4 separate regions of the Homo sapiens genome follow, and regions 1, 3 and 4 are each linked to region 2. The links come from fine-mapping of genetic effects on gene expression. A gene starts in region 2. Each other region holds a variant in brackets. All regions are shown on one strand. Distances are between the middles of the regions.

The links. PIP is the estimated chance that this variant, and not a neighbour inherited with it, causes the effect. A credible set is the group of variants that fine-mapping cannot tell apart.
Region 1: its variant is the best candidate, but not a certain one, in a credible set for the expression of BARD1 in left ventricle (GTEx, PIP 0.53).
Region 3: its variant is the best candidate, but not a certain one, in a credible set for the expression of BARD1 in T cells (TOPMed, PIP 0.62).
Region 4: its variant is the best candidate, but not a certain one, in a credible set for the expression of BARD1 in B cells (CEDAR, PIP 0.86).

What each region holds. Positions count from the first base shown.
Region 1 is chr2:214,769,506-214,777,505 of GRCh38, reverse strand. All of the region lies in intron 4 of BARD1 (BRCA1 associated RING domain 1), which reads left to right. Among named protein-coding and RNA genes, the nearest start is that of BARD1, 36 kb to the left of the region's middle. The variant T/C (reference allele first, on the strand shown) is at 4,911.
Region 2 is chr2:214,805,147-214,813,278 of GRCh38, reverse strand. BARD1 (BRCA1 associated RING domain 1) reads left to right here and starts at 3,596. Exons shown (of 11, transcript NM_000465.4): 1 at 3,596-3,867. The coding sequence starts at 3,710. It overlaps SNHG31 (small nucleolar RNA host gene 31), which reads right to left and starts at 3,050. Exons shown (of 4, transcript NR_110292.1): 1 at 2,847-3,050. RefSeq lists a silencer at 3,118-3,687 and enhancers at 4,238-4,317, 4,608-4,657.
Region 3 is chr2:214,851,690-214,859,835 of GRCh38, reverse strand. All of the region lies in intron 2 of SNHG31 (small nucleolar RNA host gene 31), which reads right to left. Among named protein-coding and RNA genes, the nearest start is that of SNORA70I, 8.8 kb to the right of the region's middle. The variant A/C (reference allele first, on the strand shown) is at 3,392.
Region 4 is chr2:214,724,813-214,732,954 of GRCh38, reverse strand. BARD1 (BRCA1 associated RING domain 1) reads left to right here. Exons shown (of 11, transcript NM_000465.4): 10 at 2,447-2,544; 11 at 3,947-7,309. The coding sequence ends at 4,279. Among named protein-coding and RNA genes, the nearest start is that of BARD1, 81 kb to the left of the region's middle. The variant G/AAG (reference allele first, on the strand shown) is at 4,418.

The sequences.
Region 1 (8,000 bases), 36 kb after region 2:
TAAACTTGCAGTTTCTATAGTTTGAGCACATGTTTGCGCTGAGCATCCTTGGTGTATGCACCGAGGGCAGAGAACCCAGCAGGAGTTTGTTCTCCTGCACTAGTTACCTTCCCCCACTGCAGGTAGGGCTTTACTGATTGATTTCTGAGCTTGGAAACATTATTAATAAACATCGTATAATACCTTGCCCCAAACTACCTCTGGGCATCATCATTGGCCATAACCTTTCCATAGCTACCACCCTACTGGCAGCTACTTCTCTTTTCTTGCCCCTACCACTTGCATTAATTTTCTATTGGTGCCAAAACAAACTTCCACAAAGTTAGTGATTCAAAGCAATGCAAATTAATTTTCTTACAGTTCTGTACACCTGAAGTCTAGTATGGGTCTCATCACACTAAAATCATGTTGTCAGCTGTTTTCAGGAGGTTCCAGGAAAGACCCATTTCATTTTTGCTTGGATGGTTGGCAGGGACTTCATAATTCTTGTGGTAAGACTGAGATCCAGATTTCTTGCTGGTTTTCAGCTGAGGGTTGTTTCCAGGTTCTAGAGACTCTCACATTCCTTTAGTTCGTGGTCCTCTTCTTCATCTCATCCAGCAGCAGCAGATTGAGTCCTTCTCACATCTTATCTTTCTGACATAGCCAGAAAGACCCTCTGCTTTTAAGAATTCATACGATTAAATTGGGCTACTTGAGAAATGCGGAATAATCTCCCCATCTCAAGGTGTGTCCACTTAATTACACTGCAGTGTCCCTTTCACCACGTAAGGTAACATAGTCACAGGTTCTGGGGATTATTCGTGTGTGGACATTTTTGGAGGTCGTAATTTTTTGACCACACCACTGAAGTAGCTTCCTAATTTCCCTTTGTATTTCCTGCAGTCAGTTCTCTATGTAACAGCCAGAGTAATCTGACCGAAATCAAAATTATCATTTCTCTGCTCTCCTATCAGTAAGTCTTTTTTATACCCCTCTTCCTATTTGAATATCTTCATAACTCATGTTCCTATTTGAATGTCTGCATCAGCTATGTTAAACTGCTATTGAGAACACTGTGTCATGAATGGGAGAGTTTATGAGAAAGCTTTGTGCGTAAGTAGAAACTAAGATACTCATTGTTTATTCTTCTGATTTATTACCACAATTACTTTTGCACCAACCCAATAGAAAACAAAATACTAAGGATATAGAGAAAATTTTTTATTTTCTATTATGTCAGCTTTGCTTGAGAATTTGTGCCATCCTGACCTTCCCCTTTTCTTCCCCCACACCCTTCTACCAAGTTCTCTAGCACAAATTCTTAAAATGGCAATGACTACTCATAATTTATGCCACAGCAATGACTTACTGTGGAATAGAAGAATGGCTTGAAGCTGGCATGCCATGATTTATTAGTGATGTAGACATAATAGATAATGTTTTGAATGCAACTTACAAGGCATGGTATGCTTAGAACATAACAAAGGTGATGAAGATCCCCTGGAGAGAGAGAAGATCCCTTGTGAGGAGTCTCATTTAGAGTTTAACTTTGTAGTTTATTATACTTGAAGACAGTCATGTTATATTGTGTGTGAAATTATATATCCTTCATAGTAGCTTCATGAGAAGGTAGCAAAGGAAACAAAAGCAGCCTTGGCATATGTGATATTTTCAAGAGTTTAATTTCTAAAACACCTCCTGGAGTCAGTATCTATTTTTCTCCTCTGTCACTCACCACATATGTATAAGTCTGCTTTTGTAATACCAGTAACTTATTGTGCCATTGACCAGGTTATCAGAATTATCTGTTAAATTACAGGCATACCTCATTTAATTGCACTTCACTTTTTTATGCTTCGCAGAGAGTTTTGTTTTTGTGTTTTTTGGCAATCCTGCATTGAGCAAGTCTGTCAGTGCTGTTTTTCCAACAGCCTATGCTCAGTGTGTCTCTGTGTCACATTTTGGTAATTCTCACAATATTTCAGATATTTTCACTATTGTTGTATCTGTTACGGTGATTTGTGATCAGTGATCTTTGATGTAACTATTGTAATTGCTTTGGGGCACCACAAACCCTGGCCATGTAACATGGCAAACTTAATTGATAAATGTCTTTTCTGACTATTCTGCTTACTGATAATTCTCCCATCTCTCTCCCTTTGAATCCCTGTTTCCTGGGACACAAGAATATTGAATTTAGGTAAACTAACAACCCTACAATGTCCTCTGAGTTTTCAAGTGGAAGGAAGAGTCACTCATCTCTTACTTTATATAAGAAGCTAGAAATGATGAGTGAGGAAGGCATGTTGAAAGTTGAGATAGGCCAAAAGCTAGGTCTCTTGCCAAACAGCCAATTTGTGAATGCAAAGAAAAAATTCTTTAAGTAATTTAAAAGAGCTACCCTGTTGAATACACAAATGAGATGAGAAGAAAGCATAACCGCCTTACTGCCGATATGAGGAGAGTTGGAATGGTCTGGATAGATGATCAAACCAACCACATTTCCTTAAGCAAAACCCTACTCCAGAGCAAGATCCTAAATCTCTTCAATTCTGTGAAGACTGAGAGAGGTGAGGAAGCTGCAGAAGAAAAGTTGGAAGCTAGCAGAGGTTGGTTCATGAAGTTGAAGGAAAAAAGCTGTCTCCATAATATAACAATGCAAGTTGAAACAGCAGGTGCTGATGGAGAAACTGCAGCAGGTTATCCAGAAGATCTAGCCAAGATAATTATGAGAGTGGCACACTAAACAACAGATTTCAGTGAAGTTGAAACAGCCTTTTGTTGGAAGAATATGCCATCTGTGTCTTTCATAGCTAGAAAGGAGAAGTCAATGCCTGGCTTCAAAGGACAGGCTTTCTTGTTAGGGGCTAATGCAGCTGGTGACTTGAAGTGGAAGCCAATGCTCATTTACCATTTAGAACAACAAAGCCTGGGTGGGAGCACATCTTGACAGCATGGTTTGCTAAATATTTTAAGCCTGCTGTTGAGACCTACTGTTCAGGAAAGATATTCAAAATATTACTAATTGACAGTGCCACCTAGTCACCCAAGTGTTCTGATGAAGATAAGGACATTAATGCTGTTTTCATGTCTCCCAACAAAACATCAATTCTGTAGCCCATGGATCAAGGAGTAACTTTACTTTCAAGTCTTGTTACTTAAGCATTTTGTAAGGCTATAGCTGTTGTAGATGGGTATTCCACAGATGATTCTGGAAATGACTCACCATTCTAGATGCCATTAATATCATTGATGATTCATGGGAGGATGTCCAAATGTTAACATTAACAGTAGTTTGGAAAAGAGTTGATTACAGTTTTCATGGATGACTTTGAGAGGTTCAGAACTTAAGTGGAGAAAGTAACTATAGATGTAGTAGAAATAGCAAGATAACTAGAATTAGAAGTGGAGCCTGAAGACGTAACTGAATTGCTGCAGCCTCATGATCAAACTTCAATGGATGAGGCGTTGTTTGTTATAGATGAGAAAGAAAGTGGTTTCTGCAGATGGAATCTACTTCTGGTGAAGATGTTGTGAACACTGTTGAAATGACAACAAAGGATTTAGAAAATTATATCATCTTAGTTGATAAAACAGCAGCAGGGTTTGAGAGGATTGGCTCCAATCTTGGGAGAAGTTCTACGCAGATAAAATGCTACCAAACAGCGTCACATGCTACAGATAAATCTTTCATGAAATGTCAGTGGATGTGGCATACTTCATTGTCCTGATTTAAGAAACTGTCACAACCACCCAAACCTTCAGCAACTACCTGCTTGCTCAGTCAGCAGCCAGCAGCATCAAGGCAAGACCATCCACCAGCAAAACAATTGTCACCATTTTTTAGCAATAAAGTTATTTTCAATTAAGGTCTGTTCATTTTTTTTAAAAAACATAATGCTATTGCACACTTAGTAGACTACAGTATAGTGCACATATAACTTTTATATGTGCTGGGAAACCAGAAGATTCGTGTGACTTGTTTTATTGCAATATTTGCTTTATCGCAGTGACCTGGAACTGAACTGACAGTATCTCCGAGATATGCCTGTATTTTATTCAGTAAATTCTAAGAAGCTACAGAAATATTTAACATATTTTAGAGCTTCATTCCAGTTGGTTCATTTTTGTTTGTTTGTTTTAATGGCATCTAATTGCCAAGAAGGGAAGTCTTTGGTTCCTGGTCGGTTCATTTACATGGAAAGGCTTAACCATGCTAGGCAAGTCATTTGTCTTATACTTAATTGTAACGTTCTGTATTGTTTTTATGAATATGTTTATTAATGGTATTTTAGAAGAGCTAACATTTATAATAAGGAAAAGTTTTGTTTTTATGTGTGTGTTTTTGGAAAGTTAATTTATATTGTTGGAATATGTGTGGATCTGCAGTATGTACAAATGTGTGAAGGATCTTTCCTTTGATTGAAAGATTAGGAATAAAAGATTCAGTGGGACACACACACACTCTTATTTTCAGCCTTCAGTGTATTACTTGAAAATACCAAATTCATTTAAAATTTTTAATAAGCCTTGGCAAATACTTTCCTTAGATAAATTATGTTTGCTGTGGTTTAAGAAAAGTTCAATTATTCTTTCAAGTTGTGAGGAGCCCAAAAGTGAGTACTTGAAAGTAATTTAAAGAAGCCAGAATCAAAACTTAATTTATTTCCTGGCTACTTCATATCAGTTCAAGCTATTCCAGTTACTGTAGACTCTATCTAATTATCATAATTTTATTTATGCGCATGACATTACATTTACATGAAGTAGAAAGATGAAAATATGACAAAACTTTCAAGTACTAGAGAGGAGAAAGCAGATTGGTTATAAAAAGCAAGCCGTTTGCTAATCAGCTATACAGTTCAGGGGTGGGGAGAATGTTAACAGAAGACACTTTGATAATATGAAGAGGTGACATGAAAGAAAAA[T/C]AGCAACTGTCTAACAACCTTAAAAGAGAGTCTACTTGTATTCTTTAAATTGTCACTCCGTTTCTGTTTGACTATTCCCTTGAGACTCTTCCATTTCACAATTGTGTTTATATTATTTTTTAAGCTTCTTTAATATTTTTTTTTTGCATTACCATGTAGAATTAGAATGGGGAAATCTTTGAGAAGGTTTTTGTGTGTGAGTACTTTCATGTTAAAGATAGGGAATGTGTGTGGTTCTGGCAGTTTATCTGCTCACTTGTTACAGGATTGTTTTGGAAAAAAAAATTTGTATCTTGGCAGATATTCCTGCATTCATTTGTAACCGTTATGAATATAAAGCAAAAGTTGCAGGGGCTCACACCTGTAATCCCAATAATTTTGGAAGCTAAGGCAGGAGATTGCTTGAGTCCATTAGTTTGGGCAACATAGTGAGACCCCCATCTCTACAAAACAATAAAAAAAATTAGCTGGGCATGGTGATGTATGCCTAGCAGTAGCATACTGCTGAGGCTGAGGCAGGAGAATTGCTTGGGCCCAGGAGCTTGAAGTTACAGTGAGCTATGATCATGCCATTGCACTCCAGTTGCTAAATACATGATAACTTGCTCTAGAAGTAGAATTTGCACTGTTAAGAAATCTGGGAAAATGTTGCTTTTTTTTTTTTTTTTTTTCCTGAAACTGGGGTAATTAATTTGAAACCTACAATCCTTTTAGACCCATTGAGCATTTAAGGTCATTTTGTTAATTTAGGAATATAAAAATGTATGTTGCATGAGAATTTACTTTTTTAGAAAACTGAAGATTTGAGAAACAGCCCAGAGCACAGAAACAGAGACAATTAGATATAAAAAGCATTTTTTTTTTTTCTGAGGTAGAGTCTCGCTCTGTCGCCCAGGCTGGAGTGCAGTGGTGTGATCTCAACTCACTGCAACCTCCGCCTCCTGGGTTCAAGCAGTTCTCCTGTCTCAGCCTCCTGAGTAGCTAGGATTACAGGCGTGTACCACCATGCCTGGCTAATTTTTGTGTTTTTAGGAGAGACGGGATTTCACCATGTTGGCTAGGCTGATCTCAAACTCCTGACCTCATGATTTGCCTGCCTCAGCCTCCCAAAGTGCTGGGATTACAGGTGTGAGCCACCACGTCTGGCCAGCAAAATTTTTTAAAAAGAAAAAAAAATCAAATATTATATTTAGGAGAATTAGTGATTTCTACATTATCAAACCAACAGAGGAAAAAAATTTCAGAAAAAAGTATTGGGAGAGGGGTTGGGTGGGGAGAGATTTATTCACTAAAGAAGCACTCACGAAACTCATTGAACACAATGTTATGCATGTAACTTCTGTCTATAGCTTTTTATTTGGTCTTTTTTGAGAGTATGCTCTGCTAGATATTTTTGCTTTATCGTCATGGACTTAGGTACTGTACCCTGCCCTGTTATCCTAAAAGAACTGATTAGTTATATTTGCAGTGAGTGGTGATAATAATGTAATTTCAAGAAAATTTTTACCTTCATCCCGCTGCATAAATGCCTCCTTCTTCCTAAAGCCTGACATTGTTTTACAAAGGGACAGTATCCTTTATATTACAGCTAGAGATTTTTAAAAAGGCTTTAAGAGTTAACGGATACTTAAAACGTAATATGTAATTAAATATAAATGATAGATGTCAGATCTTTCCACATTACATGAAGGGCCAAATTTAAGAGACCCTGGTATTAGATAGCTGGAGGATTATTATCTCTCACTTCTAGGAAAATAAAAAAGAAGAGTGGGAGGGCAGACTACCTGAGACCAGTTCCCCAGAACTCCTTTGCCACAGTCTACCTTCGCTGGAGGCTGGCAGCAGAGGGAAGCTATTTTTTTTGTCTTACTTCAAGACAGCTTTAAAGTGACCTTAAAAGTCTACTCATTTATAGTAGGATTTAGTTGGATCATGACACACAAGACACAGAAAGTTCAAAACTGGAAGGGGTCTTCAATTTTAATGCTATTTAATAATTGACGGTGTCTTAATATGAAAGTCGAATTAATATTGTCTGCCTTCAGAGTATTTTCCTTGCCTTGTGCCTCATTTTAATTCACTTATTCCCCGGATCTTGCTCATCTGATTTAAAAAGAGGTTGTGATTTCTAAAGTAAAGTTATTGTATTTCTTACTATTCCTCATCTGCCTTCTCCATTGCATCAGTGTGCTACTGTTGCTACTGTTATAACATTGTTGCATAGCTCTCCAGAGTACTGGAATAGAGAAATAGAGAAATTGAAAACCACTTGTTAGAAAAGACTTGTAAGGCTACATTACAGAAGCTCTATTTCGTATAGTTGAATTAGTTGATAATGGGTGGTGATTTTAGTCTTGAACTGGGCGGGGAGCAGGGGGATAAAAAATTTAATGCTAATTCTGTGGGCTGATTTGAATAGGTTTGTACTGATCTCTTTTTTTGCCATTTTAAACAGAGCAACTGTTGCTTCCTAGAAAATGTTGAACAAATAAGGTGAATATAAACTAAATGTATTAGGATGGAGTAACTGCCAATAAAATGGCAGTTTTTGGCTGTTTTTTAACTTTGGTTTCACTGAGTAGTCTTCTGGGCTAAACAGTTTTGGTTGTTTTAAACAATACTCAGAAGCCATTTACAAATGCTCAAAAATTGTTTTTTTCACAAGTGAAATTATGGCTTTTAAAACTTCATTGTGAGCACATGATCTTTGGCCAGTGTCCTTTATTTGGTACCTGAAATGAATTTTGAATATGGCTTTCTAATAGATTTTGTAGTCTATATTCAAGCATGACTGTACTTCTTGATATCTCAGAATAATTTATACGCAGACAATTTCTTTTTTGTTTTGTTTTTTTGAGACGGAGTCTTGCTCTGTGGCCCAGGCTGGAGTGCAGTGACATGATCTTGGCTCACTGCAACCTCTGCCTCCTGGGCTCAAGTGATTCTCCTGCCTCAGCCTCCCAAGTAGCTGGGATTACAGGCTGGCACCACCATGCCCGACTAGTTTTGTATTTTTAGTAGAGACGGGGTTTCACCATGTTGACCAGGCTGGTCTCAAACTCCTGACCTCAGGTGATCCACCCACCTTGG
Region 2 (8,132 bases):
AATCATCCTCAATCAGTTACCATTTACTGAGTACTTATGGTGTATGTGATTTTACATTTAATCTTATTTAATAGTCCTCCAAATCTACCCGATAAATATTATCCCCATTTTGCAGACAAGGAAACTAATGCTCAGAGAGCTTAAGGCTTGGTTTAAATCACACAATTATTTAGTGAAAGTGGGATTATAAGTAGGACAATCTATCTCCTGAAATCCTCAATTTACCCCATTAACACCATAGTATCTCTCCAGGTTTTAACGTTTTAAGTTTTCGTTCTTTTTCTTTTTCTTTCTTTTCCTTTTGTGTTTTTTTTTTTTTTTTTTTTTTTGAGACAGTCTCGCTCCGTTGCCCAGGCTGGAGGGCAGCGACACCATCTTGCCTCACTGCAACCTTCACCTCCTGGCTTCCAGCTATTTTTCTGCCTCAGCCTCCTGAGGAACTGGGATTACAGGTGCATGCCACCACACCTGGCTAATTTTTATATTTTTAGTAGAGACGGGGTTTCACCATGTTAGCCAGGCTGGCCTTGAACTCCTGACCTCAAGTGATCCACCTGCCTTGGCCTCCCAAAGTGCTGGGATTACAAGTGTGAGCCACCGTGCCTGACCCATTTTAAGTTTTCTAGAACTTGATTTCTCCCACGCTCAACAAAGAGTAAGCACTGGCTTAACAGGACTAATAAGGACTAACTTCTTAGGTGCCTCTGAGTTAAAAAAAAAAATTGGTTCGTTTGTGTGCTATCATAGTTTCAGTTAAAACATTTAATAAAGCCTTATTTAGTTGTGCTTATTCTAACTAACCAAGTGTGTGATTTTGGCCAAGTCATTTAAACTCCTTGAGTTTTCATTATTTAGTGGAGCTACAAGGCACAGTGGCTCACACCTGTAATCCCAGCATTTTGGGAGGCTGAGGCAGAAGAATTGCTTGAGGTCAGGAGTTCTAGAGCAGCCTGGCCAACATAGAGAGACCCTGTCTCTACAAATAATTAAAAAAAAAATTATCCAGGCATGGTGGGGTGCACCTGCACAGGTCCCAGCTACTCGGGAGGCTGAGGTGGGAGGGTCACTTGAGCCCAGGAGTTCAAAGCTGCAGTGAGCTGAGATCGTACCACTGTACTCCATCCTGGGCAACAGAGTGAGACCTTGTCCCAAAAAACCCCTCAAAAGACCAAAAATATAATTTACTGGGGCCATTAATAATCAAAAAGATCTGGGTTAATATTCTGCCACTGTTGTTATCTGTGCCTCCATCCTGGACAAGTATGCTTTTCTTTTTACAAATCTTACTTTTCTCTAAAGATGGGGGTCTTGCTATGTTGCCTAGGCTGGCCTTGAACCCCGGGGCTGAAGTGATTCTCCTGCCTCAGCCTCCCAAGTAGCTAGGACTACAGGCATGTGCTGAGCCCCTTGGGCAAGTAAATTAAGATCTCTGAGCCACACCTGCCTCCTCTTATTAAAGAGCACTGTCTTAGCTGTTATAACAAAATACTATAATCTAGATGGCTTAAGCAACAGAAATTTGTCATATTTCTGGAGTCTAGAAGTCTGAGATTAGCGTGCCAGTATGACTGGGTTTTGGGGAGGGCCCTCTTCTTTTGCGTTCTTGCTGTGTCCTCATGTGGTGGAGAGAGAGAGAACTCTCTCTTCTTACAAGGTCATTAACCCCATCATGGGGGCTCTGCCCTCATAACCCCATCTAAATCTAACTACCACCCAAAGGTCCCCTCCAAATACTATCACGTTGGGGTTACAACTTTTAATATATGAATTTGGGGGTGACACTACAGATACTAATGCCCATTTCATAGGGTCCCTATAAGGCTTAAGGCAGGTATTAACATAGGAAAGCACTTAAAGCTGGGTCTGGCTTGGGTAGGTAGTTCAATGATTCAACAAACACTGAGCACCTACCTGGAGCCAAGCACTGCATGTGCCACATGAAGCGATATTGGGAAATGAGTCACATGCAGCCAATCTCTGGCCTTTTGGAGGTTTTGAACTAGAAGGGGACACGCACATAATCGTATGTGTGTGTATCTACATACACAGGTGATATGATGCACCTGAGAGAATCCAGTCTAGGAACTAGGAAAACCTTTAAGGAGTGATACTTCAGCTGTATTCTGAAGGATGAGGAATGGAGAGGAGGCCAATTCCAGGTTCCAAAGTGAATCTTTGCGCAAAAGCCATGAGGCAGCAAGGTGCAGGGGCTTTTAATGACCTAAGGGAACGCACTGTGGGGTTGGGACCATGATGGCCAGAGGAGGTTTTGACAAGAGGCTAGTCAAAGAGCAGAGAAAAACTTTAAGGAGTTTTAAGAAAGGGAAGTGCCACGATGAGTTTTGTGTTTGGAAATGTTTTAGGCGGCCACACCGCAGTCTCGGGACTGGCTGGGACCTGGATAGACACTTGGATATCAGCTAGAAAGCTACGACAGGAAACCAGGCGAGGACGAGGCAACTGGGGATGTTGTGGAGCAGAGACGGAGAGAAAATGGGTGCATTCGAGACAAGTTAGGGGGAAAAAATGCAAGGACTTGGAAATGAACTTGGGGCGCGGCAGGAAGGCATGACGGGTTGCTCTGTAGGTCTTATCTGTAAATTACGGCGATCAGTGAAAGATCTGGAGGAGGAAGGTGGACACACTCTCTAACAAAAAAAACCCTTTTTGAAATTTTATACCAATATTTTAAAAGTAAACCAGATCTTTTCAGACATGCCTTTGAGCTGATATTTGTTAACTAGTTAGAATTAGAAACTTTCCTTATTTTTACTCAGTTACAATATACGCCACAGCTGAGGTGAGAGGAAAGAAAAGGTTGCTTTCTTAGGAACAAAGAGTGGTACCTTCAGTATCGTGGGCAAAGCTTTTCCAAGTCCAACAGCAGTCAAAACAGCGCTTTTTATAAATAACACTCAGCTAAAAGTTTCTGGGTTTGTGATTGTTCCAACGGTTAAGCTCGGATGAGGGTCCCTGGAGTCGTAGCTCCCGGGAAACGTCGACTGGCTTTCCACCTGGACTTCATCCGTCCAGGCAGCCCAGAGGGGCTTCAGGCCCCGCCCGCTCTCCTGCCAACTACAGCCTCGCGACTGCGCTCAGCCTTCAGGCCCCGCCCCTTCGGTCAAGCGGCGTGCTCTCACTGCACGGCGCCTGGGCCCCGCGCGCCGGGACCTCGGTTTCAGCCGTCCTGTCCTGCCCCGAGGCCCCTAGGCCCCGCCCCTGGGCCCCGCGCGCCAGGACTTCGGTTTCGACCGTCCTGTCCCGCCCCGAGGCTCCTAGGCCCCGCCCCCTCTGTCCCCGGCGTGTTCTCGCGGCTCCGCCCCTAGGACCCGCGCGCCGGGACTTTGGCAAGTTTCAGCCGTCCGGCCCCGCCCCCTCGGTCCCACGGCTCTCGCGGCCCCTCCCCTAAGTCCCACACGCCGGGACTTTGGCAAGTTTCAGCCTCCAGCCCCACCCCTAGGTCCCGCCCACTCGGCCAGCGGCTGGCTCTCGCGGCCCCGCCCCTGTGCCCTGCGAGTCCCTATTTTGGGAGCATTGCGGCCGCCGTGCCCCGCCCCTCCCCGCGCGCCCCGCCCCTCTGGCGGCCCGCCGTCCCAGACGCGGGAAGAGCTTGGCCGGTTTCGAGTCGCTGGCCTGCAGCTTCCCTGTGGTTTCCCGAGGCTTCCTTGCTTCCCGCTCTGCGAGGAGCCTTTCATCCGAAGGCGGGACGATGCCGGATAATCGGCAGCCGAGGAACCGGCAGCCGAGGATCCGCTCCGGGAACGAGCCTCGTTCCGCGCCCGCCATGGAACCGGATGGTCGCGGTGCCTGGGCCCACAGTCGCGCCGCGCTCGACCGCCTGGAGAAGCTGCTGCGCTGCTCGCGTTGGTAAAGACGGAGCTTCTTGGGGGTGGCTGCGAGGGCACGGGTCGCACAGTTTCTGGGGGCGGCAGAATCTTTTCAAATCTTCCGTTTCCTCCTTCCGTTCCCGCGCTGCAGTCGGGTCGGCGTGCGGTTAGCACCTGCCGGGGGATATAGTATTAACAACTTCTGCTTCTCATTCACTTTATTTTTGGGCGACTTACCGGCCTCCCCTTGCCCTGAATCCAACTGAAACGGTAGTTTTTGAACTTCAGCGGGCTGAAGAACCGTCTGGAGGTGTGGCTAAAAAAATGTTCATCCCGGTCGCGCCTCCAGAGTTTGAATCGGGCTGGGGTGGGGCTGAGGCTTCTGCATTTTTTACCCGGCCCTGGATTACCCCGCTGCTTTCCGGGAGCTGTGGCGAATTGGGCTGGCGGGCCGCCCCGGAGACCCTCTAAATTAGAAGCAGCTGCCACTCTAAGTTAAACTGGCCTTTTTGACATTTTCTCCGTGCCAGCTTTTTCGAGTGAGATGGGATGGAGCATCGGATATCTACCATAGTTGTAGATTGAAGATGGCACGGAATTTCTCATTTTCTTAGTTTGCTCAAAAGACTGTATGTCTGGTGTCCCCGCTCTTAGTGATGCTGTTTATTGTTTTCCTTCATGCTGTCACATTATGGGAGTCCTCTCAGGGTTTTCATTCCGTCCAAAGACATTTTCATGAGTGTTACTTCTTGCTTTTTTTCGTGTAGCTCTTTCTAGTATACAAACCAAGAAGGTTTGTAAAACCCAAGAAAGGTTTGTCTCATTTTCATTTCTTCTGAAAAGCATTTTTATTGAGCACTTGCTGTGTGTACAGCTAAGTATTTCTGTATGAAGATCACTGGCAGTTTTTTTGTTATTTGTAGCTGTCAAAAGTTTATATCCTTTTTGGACTTTTTTCCCCTTTGATTTCTAACTTGCAGAACTTAAGTTACCTAGTTGCATAAAGTATAAGTAACACAACTTTTTCTTTTCTTTCCTTTTTTGAGACGGAGTCTCGCTCTGTCGCCCAGGCTGGAGTGCAGTGGCACGATCTTGTCTCACTGCAAGCTCCGCCTCCCGGGTTCACGCCATTCTCCTGCTTCAGCCTCCCAAGTAGCTGGGACTGCAGGCGCCCGCCATCATGCCCGGCTAATTTTTTGTATTTTTAGTACAGATGGGGTTTCACCGTGTTAGCCAGGATGGTCTCCGTCTCCTGACCTCGTGATCCGCCCGCCTCTGCCTCCCAAAGTGCTGGGATTACAGGCGTGAGCCACGGTGCCCGGCCAAACTTTTTCTTTAAAAATGAAAAGGACTTAACTGTCAGAGTTTTGCACTTATATTTTCTTTGACGAAAACTTTTAATATCTGTGACAAAATGACATTGCACTTCTTAGAAAAGTGACACTCAGATAAGTGAGTACATGAAGACATTTGAGTTGTGTGTTTGTTTTCCTGTAGCACATGGGTCATCTGAGAATAGGAAATTTAAAACTGGCACTGCTAGTTGCAATAACAGAAGCATTATAGTTCACACCTTGATAGTCCAACGAAAGTTAGACATTCCCTTGGCACATACCTATGTGGAAGCATCGGGCTTCACTTAGACTGTGGTCAGAATGCCTGAGTTCAGGTTCTAGCTTTGACACTATTGAGTAGGCCAAGTTATTCATCTCTCATTTTCCGGATATGAGTAATACTAATGATTAGCTTATTTTCTTGTGAGGATTCATTAATAATCATAAATTTATTGAGCACCCATAAAGTGCCAGACCCTATTCTGGGTATTGGGGATTTGTTAGTGAACAAAGCAGACAATAAATTCCATCTCTTAGGGAGCTTTTATGGAAGAAACAAAATGAAATTTTACATGTATGTAAAGTATTGAGTTTGGTGGTTGTGATAGAATAAATGATAAATAATGTGTGTCTTAATCTAAAAGAATGTGGTGTTTGCTTGCTACATGATTTGGGAGAGACAAAATAGATAATATATATGAATATATGTTGTCCTGAAAAATAACAAAGCCGGTTTCACTTTTTATCCCCTACCAAATATTTTTCCAGTTTCTAACTGAAGTGAGTAGACAGTAAGAGGCAACGGAGTGTAAACAGACATCAGTAACCAGGCCCAGACTTTTAGCATGGCTCACCCATTTGACTACAGAATGCTATTGAATGCTATTGATTTTTTTTTTTTTAATCCGAACCTCTATAGATGAACTGAATCTTAACTCTTAGACTGCATGTTTTCATGTAGGGGTCTGCAAATTTTTTCGGTAAAGGGCCAGGTAATTAATATTTTAGGCCTTTCTGCCCGCAAATAGTTTTTGTTCTTATTTATTTTTACATCTCTTAAAAATGTAAAAACCATTCTTTCCTTAAGGGCTGTACAGAAACAGACTGCTGGCTTGGTTTGGCCCACAGGCAATAGTTGCTAAACTGTCGATAAAGTCTTGATAAACTTAATGTCTCAAGTTTAAAAATCCTTTTTGGTATACAATTTTATATCACATGGGGTGCCTTTTTTTTTTTTTTTTCCCTAGGCAAAGTTTCACTCTGTCACCCAAGCTGGAGTGCAGTGGCATGATTTCAGCTCACTGCAACCTCCTTCCCCCGGGTTCAAGCAATTCTCTTGCCTCAGCCTCCTGAGTAGCTGGAACTACAGGTGCATGCCACCATGCCCGGCTAATTTTTGTATTTTTACTAGAGACGGGGTTTCATCATGTTGGCCAGGCTGGTCTCCAACTCCTGACCTCAAGTGATCCGCCCACTTCAGCCTCCCAAAGTGCTGGGATTACAGGCGTGAGCCACCATGCCTGGTCTTTACATGGGCTTTAATGTTTAGAAATGATTTTGCTTTCCTCTGTAGGTGTCTCTGCAACTTTGGCACTATCTATAGTGAAAAAAGCATGGCCAGCTGCACCTTACTCAAGGAGGAAAAGCATTGTTCCTACCTCTGCCTTTGCCCTGGTAGCCTCCTGACATTGCCGGCAAGGAGCAACTCAGAATGGTCTGCTTCTTCCATTTGCTACCCTCCATTCAAAGCAGTGTCATATTATTTGAAATTGTGTCAGTATGTCCTTTTACAGAGTTTCAGAGTTCTACCCAGTGGGCTAGTGATTACCCCGATTACCCTCACATTCAGCTTGCAGCTGACATCTGCCTTGTGTTGCACATGGATCTGTTTTGCAGCAAGCATTACTTGCTGGTGAGGGTGGATTGGTACATAACCGGGCATCCTTTCTTGACCTTTAACATGAATCTGGCTTCAAGGTGAAGCCGATGAAAGTGTTCAAGAGGCCAGATGTGACATTTATATTAGGACCAAGCCTCACAACCAGAAAGAAGCTATTTAAGGATTTGGAAAAATGAGACAGGAAGACCATATTATTTGAGAGGCTGGCAGAAAGCACAGTAATAATGTGTTCCTAAAGGAAGCAGGAAATGGTAATAGGAGCTGCAGTGTAGAAGCCCCAGGTGTCATATAACACTGTTTTGTGAATTAATAGGTACCTCTTGGCATATTTTTGAGGGTGAGAGTGGGATTAGACATCTATGACAATTGTAACGTGGGCCTTTTTAATCAACTTTTTATGAAAAGTTAGAAAGTAATCTTTTAACCTTTATGATAGGTATTTTTTTTTTTCTGAGTTCTTGTTTAGGAGATGATCAAGCTTAATTTTGTATTCTCTCATACTTTGAGGCAGCATAGTGTAGATGTTAAATGTGTGGAATCTGGAGTTAGATTCCCTGGGTTCAAATCCTGGCTCCATTATTTAGGTTATTTTATCTTTTTATGCTTCCTTTTCTTCATCTGCACAAAATGAGTGGATATTCATAAGATGCCTTGAGCTGTGTCTGTTATGTACTAAATACTATATGAATATTTGTGAAATAAAGGATAGGTTCTCTGACTCCGGGTTCAGCTTTTGCCTTTCTTCATGAGTTTTGAATGTTCAGAGGCATTCTCACAGAGCAGTGATCCCCAAATGGAATGATTTCTCCCTGGCACTGGTTATTCATTAGAATAACGAGAAATCACTGAGACACTGTGTAAGGGGTGATAAGGTGATGCATTTTCTACTTCTGCCTTTAAGGAGTGTATGCTTAATTATAAGGGATAAAATAAATACAAGTTCAGGGTAAATTGTCGTGCAGGTCGACATAGTGCTGAGAAGAGTACTTGGGTAGGGCCAGTGGAAGGAAGCTTCATGGGCTTTTAAATTGAAATATGAATAGATTTTCTTTTTTCTGAGACGGAGTCTCC
Region 3 (8,146 bases), 47 kb before region 2:
ATAGGAGGTGCACAGAGTGGGTACCAGAGATGGAGGAGGAAGCCAATGTCCTGGTAACTGAGGATCTCTGGGGGAAATGCACACTCAAAGCTCTGATGCCAAACCATCCCCATGTGCCTAGCCTGGCTTCAGGTACTGCCCTCCCCTAAAATCACCAGAGGCAAGCTTCTGTAAATGGAACCTACAGTCACCAAAAAGGAAAATAAGAATTTTCAAATATTAGCATAGAGGAAAAAACAGAATTATAAAACACTTAAGGAAAAAAACCATGAACTAGAGGTGCAAGATTCAACGAAAAACTCACATTCAAAGGTACAGTTCATAGAGAAAACCAGACTAAGTGACTATGCAAAGAATGAGTAGAGATCATAGAAATGAAAAATATGATCCCTTAAATAAAACATTCATTAGAGAGGCAGTCTAGCAAAGGAGGATGGAAACAAATAAAGATTGACTTACTGAGGGGGCCAATTGACCTATCATTCTTTCAACCATCCCTGCACTTGCTACTTACTAAATGTTCATTACACATAAATAGGTTTTCAATTACTCTGTTTTTGTTTTAACAAATATCAACAGAATACTCTAAAACATACATATTAATATATTAATATTGGTTGTCTCTGGGTAGTGAAATTATGCAATTTTTCTTTTTGGCTAAGTTGCATTTTCAAATTTGTGATTTGAGATCTATATGATTCTCATGAAGTTCAGGAGAATGAAGCAGCAGAAAGTACAATAGAAACGTTAAGAATGGAGAATACATTCAGATGTTCCCACAGCATTCCAGAAAGAGAAGGAAGAGGAAATAAATGGGAGAAAATTACATTTAAAAGGAGAGGGGAGAAGGAAGAAAAAGAGAAAAGCAAGGAGAAAAAAGGTTAGGAAACGGAGGAGATAGGGTGGAGGAAAAGGTAACTTTCCACAGGTAAAAAGTCCACCATGTGTCTGAGTACTGATGTTAAAAAAAACCCCACATGGCCAGGTGCAGTGGCTCATGCCTGTAATCCCAACACTTTGGGAGGCCGAGGTGGGTGGACTTGAGGTCAGGTGTTCGAGACCAGCCTGGCCAACATGCTGAGACCCCGTCTCTACTAAAAATACAAAAATTAGCTGGGCATGGTGGTGCATGCCTGCAATCCCAGCTACTTGGGTGGTTGAGGCATGAGAACTGCTTGAACCCGGGAGGTGGAGGTTGCAGTGAGCCAATATCTCGCCACTGCACTCCAGCCTGGGCAACAGAGCAAGACTCTGTCTACCAAAAAAACAAAAACAAACAAACAAAACACATACGGACACATTCTAAAAATATGTCAAAGCCCTAAGTATAAAAGAAAGCATTCAATGATTTTCAGAAAGAAAACAAACATGTATCTATGAAGGAATGAAAATCAAGTTAGTGTCAGACTCATGGTCCCCACAATTTTACAATCCCCATCATGCAGAATTCACACTGTGCTGCCGAGAGGCCAATCCAACAAGACACCAAAGTAGACGGTCCCTCCTGCAGTTGCAGAATATGGCACTCCAGCCAGACTTGTCATTGCTAACAATAAAAGCTAGAGAATAGAGCAATGACTTCAGAGTTCTGAAAGTTATTTCAAATCTAGAATTCTATACTCACTGGATTTAGTGTGAGAGCAAAATAAAGACATTTTTTTTTCAGACATACAAGGCTCAAAAAAGTTACTATCTACAAGTTCTTTCTGAAAGAATTCCTAAAGGGAAATTCCAGTAAGAGAAAATAAATACATAATTCCATTTCACAGAGGTAAGAAAAGACGCCTGAATGGTTACTGTACAATATTTTAAAAAGCTAATTTGACCATGGGAAATGATGAGAAAGGAATGTAGGGTGTAACTAACAGCAAACTATTGTTGTCTTGTTCAAGGAGAGTCTTATACACTGGCATGCTTTTAGGGGGTTGCATCTCTTCTCCCTTGATTCTTCCCTTGGGGTGGGCTGTCCACATGCACAGTGGTCTGCCAGCACTTGAGAGGGGCCCAATGCGCAGTGTGTTTACTGAAGTTGTGCACATGCTCACTTGAGGCATTTTTCCCGTTCAGTGTTCCCAGAGAAAGGTCACCTACCAGTTAAACTCTGCCATTTTGCCTCTTGGTGCACATGCTTGAGCCCATTTGCTCAGCTCCTGAGATCTTATCAGGAAGCTGCTGATCACCAGATTCAGGTGTTTCTATCTATTGGGAGACTGCCTTTCCCTGGCACTGGCTGCAACCAATTATTAATACTATTTTAGAGAGACAGTGTAACAACCACCTGACCATCACCTGATGGGCACCAGACATTTCTGGTAGGAGGGGTCCTCTCCTGCCCTGCACATATCTGACTATCTACTATTAAAAATATGGCTGCTCCAGCTTTAAGGGATCCTGGGAAAAGAGTATTTAGCTTTCACCACCCTATATGGAAGAAGAGTAGGGAGAGGGCTTGGGGAAATGTTGGTGGATCATTTGACCAGAGTGTCTACCTGGAAGTTAAATGTGCTGATCCACTGTAGATATTGATAGTGAAAAGGATCAAGATATGCCACTCCAAAATATGCCTCTTTGGCCTAAGGATTATTTGGAGTTAGAGGTAATTAAGCATAAACAAAATACAGGAAGGGTTCTGTGCTCTCCTCTTATCTGTCTAAAAGTAAGGCATATATTACCCTTTATGAAAATGGCATATTAGTCGGGTGTGGTGGCTGGCGCCTATAGTCCCAGCTACTCGGGAGGCTGAGGCAGGAGAATGGCATGAACCTGGGAGACGGAGCTTGCAGTGAGCCCAGATTGCGCCACTGCACACTCCAGCCTGGGCGACAGAGCGAGACTGCTTCTCAAAAAAAAAGAAAAAAGAATGAGATGGTCCCTGAAATATCTCCTCAAGAGGGTAGAGTAAGTTAACTACAGGCCTTTTGTTTTGCTGAATGTCATATACAAAGCTGAATTGCTCAGAATTTTGAGAACCTGGATGACAGGAAAGGGAAAAGGGGAGAAATTAGAAGTGTAGGTTTCTATGTACTCTCACCATTCATCAAGTAAGTTTCCTAGTGCTCTGAACAAGTGAACTCCAAATATGCCGGCAGCATGGCCCTATCTATTAATATAAAAATATATGAGCACTCTCCCTTTGTTGTATGTGTGTTTTCAGGTCCGAAATATATGAAATGCTGCACTGGTTATTACGTGAGGACACCAGTGTCAAAAGGTGTTTTGTTACTAATAAAGCCTAATTTCTTCATTTTTTAAGACATAAAAGAACTATAAACATATTAAATTTTCTTATTCACTTCATTCTTCCACCAAACTTGGAAACAACGGTATATTTCACTTGGAAAAACACACTGTTTGCATATCCTGCCTGACAGAAAAACTCTGGCATAGCACA[A/C]CGTGCCCACGCTGCTCTGAGGAGGTGTTCTGATCCCAGTGATACAAGGCATTAAGATGGGAAGGCTGCCTGAAAACAAGATTGTTTGGGGATTTCTTTATACTGTGATTGTTCACCCTGGTGATTGTGAATGGAATTCAAATCATTTTAAGCAAGCAGAAGAGTTGCTGAATCACCACCTTGACTGCAGGCTTCCAAACTTGTGGCAACAACCAGGAAGGGGGAGAGGTTAAAAATTCAGTTGAAATGTGTACTTAGAAAAAATTAAAAACTGAATTAAAAATTATCTAATCATAATGAATTATAAATATAAAAACTATTACTTGATGTTCTTGTACCTTGTAACAGATCACAGGCAAATTTATAAAGATCTTTTAACAGTACTAATATTTTTTAAGAGAGGTTCCCCCTTTTAGATTTTGCTTATGTGATGTTATCATTTGAGTTTATCATTTCTGTAGCATGAAACAAACATAACCCTTTTTGGAGCACATTTAAATGATGTCAAAAATTTAATAAAATTAATGGCCCTGTTCTTTGCAATTGCTGCAATACATTTTCTTTCTTACACTAAAATTATGAGTAAAGATGCTGTTACTTTTTAAGTGATTTCACATAATAAAAATATGAAGTCTAGATTAAATTGATCTTTCTACTACTATTCATTCTGCTATATTCCCTCTATGAAATTGATGTTTCATCTTCAATTGTACAATTTCAACTAAAATTGGAAGACCAAAGCAACTTAGGCTATAAAATAATAAAATTACCTTACTCTGGTACAGTTTCATATTTTTCAAAGCACTTTCCCCTTATTGAATTCTGTCTCACAACAAATCTAGTTGTTATTATTTTTCTTTTGATATATGAGGAAAATGAGACACAAAATGTTAAGTGGCTTGTTTTTAGTTACACCATTTAATTAGTTATAAAGCTAAAGCTGGAACAGAATGTTTCTGTTTCTGAGTTCTTTTCTTCTGTGACTATTCCATGAGACCTGATGCTTTCATGGAAATGAGTCAGAAGTGTACCCTCTCCAGATAAACTCTAAACTCCTCACAATGAAGAGTTCAAGGAGACTGTCAGTTCTTAGAACACCCTTCCAAATTCCACAATTTGGAAACTATAATGATCATGGAAACTATAATGAGATTGGTAATCTAATATTTTCTGTTCTTCAGCAGCTGAAATAGGACTATACAGCAATTATCTATTAAGCCAAAGCTATATGTTACTGAAAATACAAGCATATTCAAGGCACCTAGGACAGGGACTGAAGGAATGGTTTTTTGATTAAAATAAGAATTTCAAGGCCTGGCATTCAGAATTGTTAAAGATCTCAAGGCCTGAAATGCCTCCTACTACTTCAAACAGGTATCTGGGGATACAGATATCCAGGAATACAGGAATTTCCCAGGACTGGTATGCCAATTCTGACTATGCAATTAGAAGAAGGAAACAAGACCTCAGCCCATGTACCAGAACTAGAGAGACTGTCAATATGGATTCAAACCCAGATGCTATGAGACAAAGTCAGAAAGATAATCCCAATAGCTGTGGAGAGTTGCTATGGTTTTAATGTGTTCCCCAAAAAGCTTGAAGTGGAAACTCAATCCCTAACGCAACAGTTCTGGGAGGTGGGACCTAATGGCAGGTGTTTAGGTCTTGAAAGCTCCACCTGTATGAATGGATTAATGCTGATTATTAAACGGCTTGAAGCTGTAAGTTTGATCTCTTGCTCTCTCTCACCTTCTCTTGGCCCTTCCACCATGGGATGACATAGCAAGAAGGCCCTCACCAGATACTAGCCCCTTGATTTTAGCCTTCCCAGCCTTCAGAACCCAAAACCAATTTCTGTTTATTATAAATGACCAAGTCTCAGGTATTCTTTCATAGCAGCACAAAATGGACTAAGACAGTAGTTGCAGAAGTATAGTGAAATTTTTCTGAGGAAGCTCAGATTCCCTAAGCAGCAGAAGCAATGTGGGAAAGAAGTCTGCCAAAATTTCACTATTAATGAAGGTAATTTAGAAGGACAAAGAGAAAGGGAGAGTTCTGGCTGCTTTTCCATTATAAAACCAAAAAAGTAGTTTGCATAGAGAATTACTAGTCCAGACTTGGGGAACAAGGGTTGCATGTTATGATTCATTCTCCTAGCTCCAGTCCAATTCCCCACAAGATTTCTGAAAGAGAGGAAAAGCAAGCCCCAGAAGGATGCACAGAAAAAGCTTCAGACCTGGTTTGCTTTACTCACTAATGTTCAAGTAGTGTAGTCCTGGCTATTCACTGACAGGATAGGTAAACACTAAGAACCAGTTTCCTGGTATCTTCACTTGTGTTGCCATAACAAATTATCATAGACTGGGTAGCTTAAACAATGAACATTTATTCCCCACAGTTTTGAAGGCTGAAAAGTCCAAGGTCGAGGTGCTGACAGATCCGGTCCTAGTGAGGGTTTGCTTCCTGGTTTGCAAATGGCCATCTTCCTGCTGTGTCCTCACATGTTGGAGAGCAGAGAATAAGCTCTCATATCTCTTCTCTTAAAAGCACTAGTCCCATTCATGACTAATTACCTCCCAAAGGCTCCATGTCCTAATATCATCAAATAAGAGGTTAGGATATCAAATTATGAATTTTAGGGAGACACAAATACCTGGTTTTCCAAGAAAAATAATCCCAGCACTTTGGGAGGCGAAGACGGGCAGATCACGACGTCAGGAGATCGAGACCATCCTGGCTAACACGGTGAAACCCCGTCTCTACTAAAAAATACAAAAAATTAGCTGGGCGTAGTGGTGGGCACCTATAGTCCCAGCTACTTGGGAGGCTAAGGCAGGAGAATGGTGTGAACCCGGGAGGCGGAGCTTGCAGTGAGCTAGATTGCACCACTGCACTCCAGCCTGGGCAACAGAGTGAGATTCCATCTCGAAAAAAAAAAAAAGAGAAATGAAGGAGTACTGGGGACTCTGCGGAAAGTTAACATCAGGATTTGTTTCTACTGTGGGAAGGATAGGCATCTCAAAGTAGAGCATATCTGTGAGGCAAACTCTACCCTAGTCTTCCAGAAATTGAGGTAGGAGCTGGTATAAGAAGACCATGACCCTCAGAGACAACAGAAATGAGGATTAAGGAGGGGATCATGGAGACAAGAGTCCTGGGTGTGGGGTAATTGAAGATCCAGCCTAGGCTTTGCACCTACTCTCCCAGACAACTTTGTGTCCCAGGGGATACCTGTGATGAACCAATAAAAACTTATTATGCATTCCATATTCTCCAGACTGGGAAGGATCATGGTGGGGAAGATGCCCAACAAAAAGAGGTGAAAATATTTCCTGTATCTACATATTTGCCCATCTTAGGAGGAGTGGCTGAGCCCTGAGTTGAATAAGACTTGAGAACCACACATAAGCCTTGTGTTTTTCTTCCATTCATTCGACCTAAAGGGAGAGAGTTAGTATAATTGATTTGTCAGGATAGCCAATATTTTCTCAAGGGAACATATAGTAACTAGAGAACATGTTTTTCAGTAGCTGTTAGGAGAATCCCATCACAAGAAAACACACAGATTTGTTAGAGAGATGTCAGTAGTAAAGTCCAAAGAAGCTTCCTGTTGGCCTCCAAGTTTTATTGGTAAAAAGCTAATTTGAATAATATGAAGGGAGGGGAAGAGCTTAGGAGCTGAGAGAGGCAAATTTCCATAAAGAAGAGCCCAATCTAACAGGCTTTGGGGAAAAGACAAACTTCTAAGACAGTATTATTGAATTGTTGGCTAAGTGACATATAAAGTAAAACTCCTCCAGCTCTGTTATAAAATCAATGTTAAATCTTACATTTCCAATTAATGCCTTCATGGCAGTTGTTCTGTTTTTTTTTTGTTTGTGGGAGGAACTCAGAACAAGTTGTCTGCCAGGTAATTGAGTTACCCCATGTGATGGTTAACTTTATGTGTCAACTTGACTTCTCTAAGGGGTGTCCAGATAGCTGTTAAAACATTTTTCTGGGTGTGTCTGTAAGGGTGTTTCTGGAAGAGATGAGCATTTGAATCAGTCAACTGAGTAAAGAAAATTGCCCTTACCAATGCCAGCAGGCATCATCCAATCCCTTGACAGACCAACTAGAACAAATTAGTGGAGGAAGAAAGAATTCACTCTGTGCTTGAGCTGGAGTTATCTGTTTCCTCCTGCCCTTAGACATCAGCATTCCTTCTTTTCCAGCCTTTCAAATTTAAACTGAGACTAACACCATTGGGTCCCTGGTTCTCAGACTCCAAGGCTTAGACTGGAACTACACCACCAGCTTTCCTGGGCCTCCAGCTTGCAGATGGCAGGTTATAGGACATCTCAGATTCCATAAACACATGAGCCAATTTTTCACAATAAATACATATATATATATATATATATATATATATATATATATATATATATCTCCTATTAGTTCTGTTTCTCTAAAGAGGCAAGGCTAATATACCCCATGAGAAATATAATGCTTCAGAAATACAGCCATCAATCCCTGTTTCATCATTTGTTTATAGGGTGCCTTATAGCTTTAAAATATTCTCATAAAATTATTATATTCTGAGTTTTTCACAATAAAATAATGTAGATGAGTAAATAGAGTGGTATCATCCTTTCTTTTTTGCAGATGAGGAAATGGGCTTTGCAGAGAATAAGTAACTTGGCCAAGTGATAAGTAACTAGAACTCTGATTCTTGTCAGTAAGTTTTTTGGTTTCAAGGGACCAAAACCACTCATA
Region 4 (8,142 bases), 80 kb after region 2:
CAAACACATTTTTTTTCCCTCAGAAAGTACCAGTTTTTTCAGTTCTGTCGCTTACTCCAAATTCTGCAGATGTGGCTCCTGGAAACAGTTGAAGTTTTGTTATTGTGTCAGTGTGGGGTAATAAAGAAGAAAGTTTAAAACCGATTATGCCATAAAGTCTGAGTTAGTCTAAAGTGGACCATTACTCACTCTTGGAAAACATTGCATTTCTTTTTCTTCTCCAGTATAAGTTTTTGCTCTCAAGATAATCATTATAGGTCAGCAAGGTGTGGTGGTTCACGCCTGTAATCCCAGCACTTTGGGAGGCTGAGGTGTGCAGATCACGAGGTCAGGAGATCGAGACCATCCTGGCTAACGCGATGAAAGCCTGTCTCTACTAAAAGTACAAAAAATTAGCCAGACATGGTGGCGGGCGCCTGTAGTCCCAGCTACTTGGGAGGCTGAGGCAGGAGAAAGGTGTGAACCCAGGAGGCGGAGCTTGCAGTGAGCCGAGATTGCGCCACTGCGCCCCAACCTGGGTGACAGTGCAAGACTCTGTCTCAGAAAAAAAAAAAAAAGAAAAAAAAATCATCATAGGTCAAAAGACATTTTACTCATACACAACTGAATCTTAATTTATATTAGATGCAATCGCAGGACAGTTCTGGGTAGCAGATTAACTGTTGGTTCTTAGCCACCCTTTAGTCAAGAAAGGAGCCCTTTTGCAGGCATATGCAGTTTACATGCCGAGTAGTGGTTCTGCTCCTGTGTTGGAATCAATTTACTGTTGAAGTAAGTAGGGATCAGCTGGACAAAACTTTATCACTAGCATTTTTCAAGAGGTTTCCAAAACACTGTAGTATATCCAACATATATGTCTAATCCTCAATATAAAGTATATGTTTATGCAGCCATAGATTTTTTTCTGATCATTTTAAGCCATTAGATATCAAGTGATAACAGGATGTAACAGTTTGATATTCAAAACTATGTGTAACTCTGAACTCTTACAGGTGCTATATAATTACTTATTTTTATTGATGTGGATACAATCTGTCAATGCTGTGTCCATAGTGAATTTTTAAAAACTTTTGTTCCTTTATGTTAACAACACTAGACAGTGAAGGGGATACCTGAGTTATTGTTCCAACTTTCCCGATACCCTCTGCTATTAAACTCCTGTTCTATGGGAAAGTGTATGAAATTCTGAAGAACGCATAGGTGAATAATATATGGTTCCTACCCTCAGTGATAAAATGAAGTATTGAGCAAAACAACCTCAAAGACAAATAGGAAATTGTATGGAGGGTTTGTTTTTATGATGAAGATAATTCATTGTAGTATCTAGTTTTTAGAATGCTTCTTGCATTTTATCCACAGAAGCCCGGTGAAAAACATTGTTTTCATTTTTTATTTCCATAGGCAAGGAAGCTTCCAGAACAAGTAATTGGGATAGCCAAGTCCTTCAACTGCAAATCTCAAATTTAGTTTAGTTATATGCCATCAGAACAGAAGCATGATAAATATATATACATGCCATCAGTTCCCTCGCTTGGTGGTAAACAGGCATTATCCAAGATGTTGTCTCTAGCTGAAGCTGACCATGTCCTTCATGATTGGTCCTGGGAATCCCAAGGGTTCCTTTCATTTCTAGAGCCTAGCGAGACAATTGGTACTGGCTGCCAGCCAGTGGCCCTACTTAGGGATTCCCCACCCAGGTGCCAAGCAGTGGAATGACTCTAAACAGTGCCAGGCTGAGCTGTCTCTATTGCTTTTGCTTTTTAACCTGAAGCTGTGAACAGACTTACTCAAGCCATCAAAAGAATGCTTTTTTTTTTCCTGCAAAGCCCAATCAAATCATCTCTAGACTAGCAACCTCAGTTGTGTACCTGTCACATGCCAAACCTATCCCAAGCTCTGCTTGTTTATTTTAGGAAGCGCTGTTGAACCCCTGTTGTGTGGCTAGCTGAGCTTGGTGCTGTAGACTAAAGCACATTCCTTCATGTCAAATCACTTACAGTTTAACAGACGATTAGACATATAACTGTCAAAATGAGCAGTATAGATGGTAAGTGCTCAGTTTAGGTTATTGTGTCATGGACTTTTTATTCACCTTAATTTTGGGTAATTGCTATGAGTGGAAATGTAGACTTTTATTTTTGTCTTTGAAATAGTATCCTGGCTTAGGTTTTTCAGAAAGGAGATTAAAATTACAGTTAGTGTTCAGTACTAACTTATGGCTTAATCCTCCAAAGAAAGAGTTTTTTAAAATATTTTCTTTATATGGGAAAACCAGTTGTATTACATTTTGTTTTGGCATAAGTAAGATTTCTGTTTGCATTTTAGAATAATACTTAAAAACTGCCATGAAGAAGAAAAACCACTTAGGTAAATTGCTTGATTTTAATGAGAGAGATATAGTGCTCACTTGATACTTAGTTTGCTTTAATTCTTGTGTTTTTGTCAGGGGTAAAAGCATGTCTACGAAGAAAAGTATGTGAACAGGAAGAAAAGTATGAAATTCCTGAAGGTCCACGCAGAAGCAGGCTCAACAGAGAACAGCTGGTATTTTTCTTTTAATACAACTTTCATTGTTCTTATTATGACATACTATTATTATCACCATCAGGAAGAACTTCTGCCCTTTCAACAGCTACAGGTGACTGATTAAAATTTTAATTGTGCTTATTTCAAGCACTTGATTCTGAAAGATGATCACGATGAGCAGTAAAATCCAGAAGGTAATAATTTCATACTGTTAATGGATTTTTGGCATCTTGAACATTGCCATAAACCTTTCAGAATCTGAGGTAAATCTCAGATACAGGAAGTAGCTTGAAAGAAGACTTACAGCTGCTGCTTGGATTTAGTTACCATATGTCTCTATGGCCACATATTGTAGCTTTAATGGATAATATCGCATTATCCTGTTGATATTATATAAGTATATTAGAAGTCACAAAGAAAATTTCCATAGAAGGGAATTATGAAACTTTTTTTATTTCCAACGAGCATACGGAAGTATGTTTCATAGCTAATTGGATCCCTAGCCTCAGCACAAAAATCTTTTGTGCCCCGTGAATACATTTCTGGAACCCTGGAGGGCACACCCCCATGGTGGCTGCCCTGGAGACCTTAGGTTGGTAATATGTAAGGACCTGAATGTGGATGGGCAGAATTGGATAAAAGTCCACGGAAAAGATGTTACTCTTGTAATTTAATAATGTTTAGCCTGGTGTCTCTGAAGCCTATTTCAAATAAGCTAGGAGTTGTGGAGGCTTTAAGTCCCACCAAATAAGCATAAACATCCTGATGAAAAAAGTTTGATGAATAGTTTGTTTTTTTCTTTATACCAAGCATATCTAAAATTTTAGAAGAGTGAAAAGGAACCGAGATGGTGACTGAATCTTAGGGAAAAAATTGTAAATAGGAAGCCCCTATTTGCCTAAGTATTTTTCTTGATCCAGTTAGTATGCTTGAAATATAACTTGTCCCAGCACCTCATTAAGTAGCTTCTTAGCTGCTCATAATTGTTACAGATGGAGCATTCCTAATCCAACATCTAAAATGCTCCAAAATCCAAAACTTTTTGAGCTTTGACATGATGCCACAAGTGGAAAATTCCACACCTGACCTCATGTGACAGGTCACGGTCAGAACACAGTCAAAATTTTGTTTCATGCACAAAATTACTGAAGATATTGTATAAAATTACTTCAGGCTATGTGCATAAGGTGTACAAGAAACAAACGAATTTTGTGTTTAGGCTTGAGCCTCATCCTTAAGATACCTCATGTATATGCAAATTTTCCAAAACCCAAAAAATTTATGAATCTGAAATGCTTCTCCTCCAAATGTTTCAGGTAAGGGATATTCAACTTGTATTTTTATTTTCCTCATTCATATACAGTGTTTTTGAATACAGTATTTTGATCTGCCTTTAACAAATGTTTTCTCATTATTTCAGTTGCCAAAGCTGTTTGATGGATGCTACTTCTATTTGTGGGGAACCTTCAAACACCATCCAAAGGACAACCTTATTAAGCTCGTCACTGCAGGTGGGGGCCAGATCCTCAGTAGAAAGCCCAAGCCAGACAGTGACGTGACTCAGACCATCAATACAGTCGCATACCATGCGAGACCCGATTCTGATCAGCGCTTCTGCACACAGTATATCATCTATGAAGATTTGTGTAATTATCACCCAGAGAGGGTTCGGCAGGGCAAAGTCTGGAAGGCTCCTTCGAGCTGGTTTATAGACTGTGTGATGTCCTTTGAGTTGCTTCCTCTTGACAGCTGAATATTATACCAGATGAACATTTCAAATTGAATTTGCACGGTTTGTGAGAGCCCAGTCATTGTACTGTTTTTAATGTTCACATTTTTACAAATAGGTAGAGTCATTCATATTTGTCTTTGAATCAAAAAAAAAAAAAAA[G/AAG]TCTAATGCCAGATTAGGAATTCATGTTATGTTTACCATTTAGAAGCTGGGATTGCTTTTAAAGGTTTTTCTTTTTAAAATTGGCATGTTTTTGATTTATCATGTCTTTCTATTCAGATTATTGGGTATCAAAGATTAATGAGGACACCAGAATCTTGGTTAAATAGACAAGTGGTATCATTACTGTTTGAGTCTTTTAATATTCTCCATACCTGCCACCAGTGAAAAAACTTGCCTTTTTTTTTTTTTTTTTTTTAGTAAACAGAATATTATCAAACAATTTATTTTGGCTTTATTGAAAAAAGAGTATTTGGTCTAAATGTGCCACCATAGGTGTTAAATTCTCCTATCTGCAATTGTCTTTATCCTATATTGTGTTCATTTCTTTTCTTAATAATTTACTTTGTTGTGTGTTTCTACACTTTCATCCCTGTTTTTTATCTTGTATATCATCAGGAAATTGTGATTTAATCATTAACATTGGTTTTTTTGTGTGTGTGGTAAAAATCAACACTAGGCTCATGGTACATATTTTTATTCTGTACATTTGCTTGTAACTATCAATTTGTAACTCTGTTTATCTACTACATGTGTATATATACTTAGAGCATTTTCTCTAACACATTTTAATGTTAGTATTTTTTAAAAGGTCTGACCAGTCTAGCAAATTGTCAGTCCAACGTCATTACTTTAAATTAAGAAGCAGTCTTCTTCTGGTAAACCTTGTTGGTATTTGTAAAATAATTTTGAAGGTCTTAATTTCTTCCTTTGTAAAAGGAAAAGGTTTTTTTTAAAGTTTTTAGGTTGGCATGGAGGCAGAAGTTGGTGATTACTTGATTTACAACAGATTTTTTCCAGATCATACAAAAGGCCATACAGTAAGTATAGAAGTAGGTATGGGGAGGGCTTACTAATATCAAATAGGCAAGGCCTTAGTGAGTGGGCAGGATACCACCTGAGAGTGGCCAGATGTGGGGAGGTTACTCTGCTCTGGGTGCTCTCATTCATGAATCGACAAGGATACATTAGATTATTTTGAAACATTTTTTTAAGAAGCAGAATTCTTTAATAATTCCTTCCTAGACATTGAATATACTTATAAAATTAAAGACTTGGGGAAGGAGACACTGAGAGACTTGCCAGTTTGGTTCCTCATGAACAAAAGAGGACAGTTTGATAACTACCAGAATAGAATATCCCTAGTTTTAAAATAGTGAGAATCTCTGAAGTTCATCAACATCTTAAGATGCACTTACTTGAAAGTTTGAGATTCTGTTTATCATTTGAAAACACATTTTGCTTTAATTCTTTCTTTGACATGTTGTTTTTTCATATCAAGAAATATATGAACAAAATAATAACCTTTTGACCCTGACCTTGCTGGGTGAATTAGCTCTGAAACACTCTCTACAACCAGTAATGCATTTGTCCCACATTTCATTCTGATAGAAAATGAACACCATAGCACCAAACAAAAATCCGAGGCGTTAGATAATGTCTGGATTAAATAATTTAAGACTCTCTAGGATTTTGGTTGTCATTTTTTATTTATAACAGACTTTAAGTCACTTTCTGTTGCCTCATAGGTCACATTTTAGACAGGTTTGTGTCTGTTCCTTGCATCTGAATTCCTGATTGTAAAGACACCTATGAGGTCTCTTAGTTTTTGTCATTCATTTTCTTGGTTTATCACCCCTCCCTTCTTTTTGTTGTTTTTCCCTGACTGTTAAGCAGTTTCATCTTTGCTTTTGTTAAATATTTGACAGCAGTTAGTTTGTGTTAAGCTCTTGAAACTTGTGATTGTACTTTCTGTGTAGATATACATGTAATTATTTTTTATTTTTCAATCATAGATTCAAGCTTCCTTCTTTTTTACCACAAATCATTAAAGTTATTTGTGTTTCCATATACCTGTGTCTTGTATAAAATTGGCTTATTCTGTGCTGTTGAATGAGGCTCAACATGACTTGGTGAGGAAGTCTATTAACTAACAAAAGCTTATCTTTTTTAACATAATGCTTTTTAATTAATTTTGAATAAAAATATTTCTAAAGTGTACTAGATACTTTATTACCTTAGATTATTCCGAATACAGTATAACTTTGATAGTTTGGAATAGTCATTAAGAAACAATTACACACTGATTGCTTTGTGTCTCTAAAAGTGAGAGGCTGGTAGCTTTTCCACATTCTCATGGCTATTTTCTAGTTCTACTTGAATTTATAACTGTTTCCCTTTTTCCTTGACAGCTGCCACTTTGTAGCTATTTTTCTGTCTCTGCTAATACTTTACCATATCTATCTCAATTGTTTTTTCTTTTGACTTGCTGAAAAATAGAAACCAGATGGGAAGTATATTAGCATTATGATTGAAATAAGGGTAAATGAGCAATGTGTGAAGGTTTTCACTGACTTCACCTAAAAGATAGTTTAGCTACTTGAATTTTAGTAAATAGAATTTTTCCTTTATTTCATCGGTCCCCCCACCTTTTTTTTTTTTTGCACCTGCCTTGTAAATTTAATAGTTAAGTGACCTCTGCCTAGAGGATGATATTTGGGGAGGTTTGATGTTTCCTGTGGGAATAAGACGATTCACAGGTGAGAGTGGGGCCACATTAGCTGTTATTGTTTCCATGGGTCAGTGTGGAAAATGCATTAATCATATTCTAAACGTTCATGGGCCTCATTACAGTCACAATTGTCTATTCTGTTTCCTACCCTGAACACATTAAAATGGTAGGAACTAATGCTTGTCTTATTTAATTACTAAAAGCCACCATTTTCTTTGATAGATTGAGCTACAGATTGTAAACTTCATGTATTTCTTTATAAGTCAACCCTTTTCAAAGATACGCACATCAAACTGAATGAATAAATAAATATTGAGAAGTTGTCTTCGTTTAAGAGCTGTAATTTTTTTTTTTTTAGTCAACTAATAGTCTTATGCCTGGCTAATTAAGCTGCAGACATTCTTATGAATTAGGGATTGTTGATTATTTGTGTAGCTTTCTAAGGCACAAGGTGCACTTTCTGATACCTGTAAGTTTCTATTAGAATGGTGATGTGAGAGAAGTGGGAAAAGCATGTTCTTTGACTAGGCTTAAAGGGTTAATGACTAATACTCCAGCCCCAGGGAGGATCCTGAATCGGCTTTGAAGTTAGACATGGGTTTGTTAACAATCTAACCTGTATCATCAGTGATAAAGGGGGGGAATACAGTTCATTTCACCTGAGTATAAAGATGTGTGAAAGTGCTTAGCACACTGTAGGCATTCACAACTCGCCTTCCAGGACCCCTGTGAGCAAGCTCATGAAAAAGTGACTGTTGGTAGCACAGCTTGTGTCAGTCCTGAGTATCCTGGCTCTTGTATCCCATGCACAAGACTGCTGGGTGTCCTCCTGTATTCACTTTACTGGTTTTAGCCTGAACAACAACCAGAGCCAGGCCCTAGTTTCTTATTTCTGACTTCTCACCATCCCATCTGCACTGGTAAAGTTTGCCCATCTATGTAGCCACTCCTGCTCATTTAACTAAAATGTTTAGCTTTCATCCCCTCAGTGTATTTACTGTGGATACCAAGATTGCTTAAGCCTCCACACAGAAGTGGGGCACCTTGGACAGCACTGGCAAAGCTTCTACAGTTACCATAATATCATAAACCCTTCCGCCACCTCCACTTGAGGCCTAAAACAAGGATGTTTATCTTTTCTGCCTTAGTTCATAGT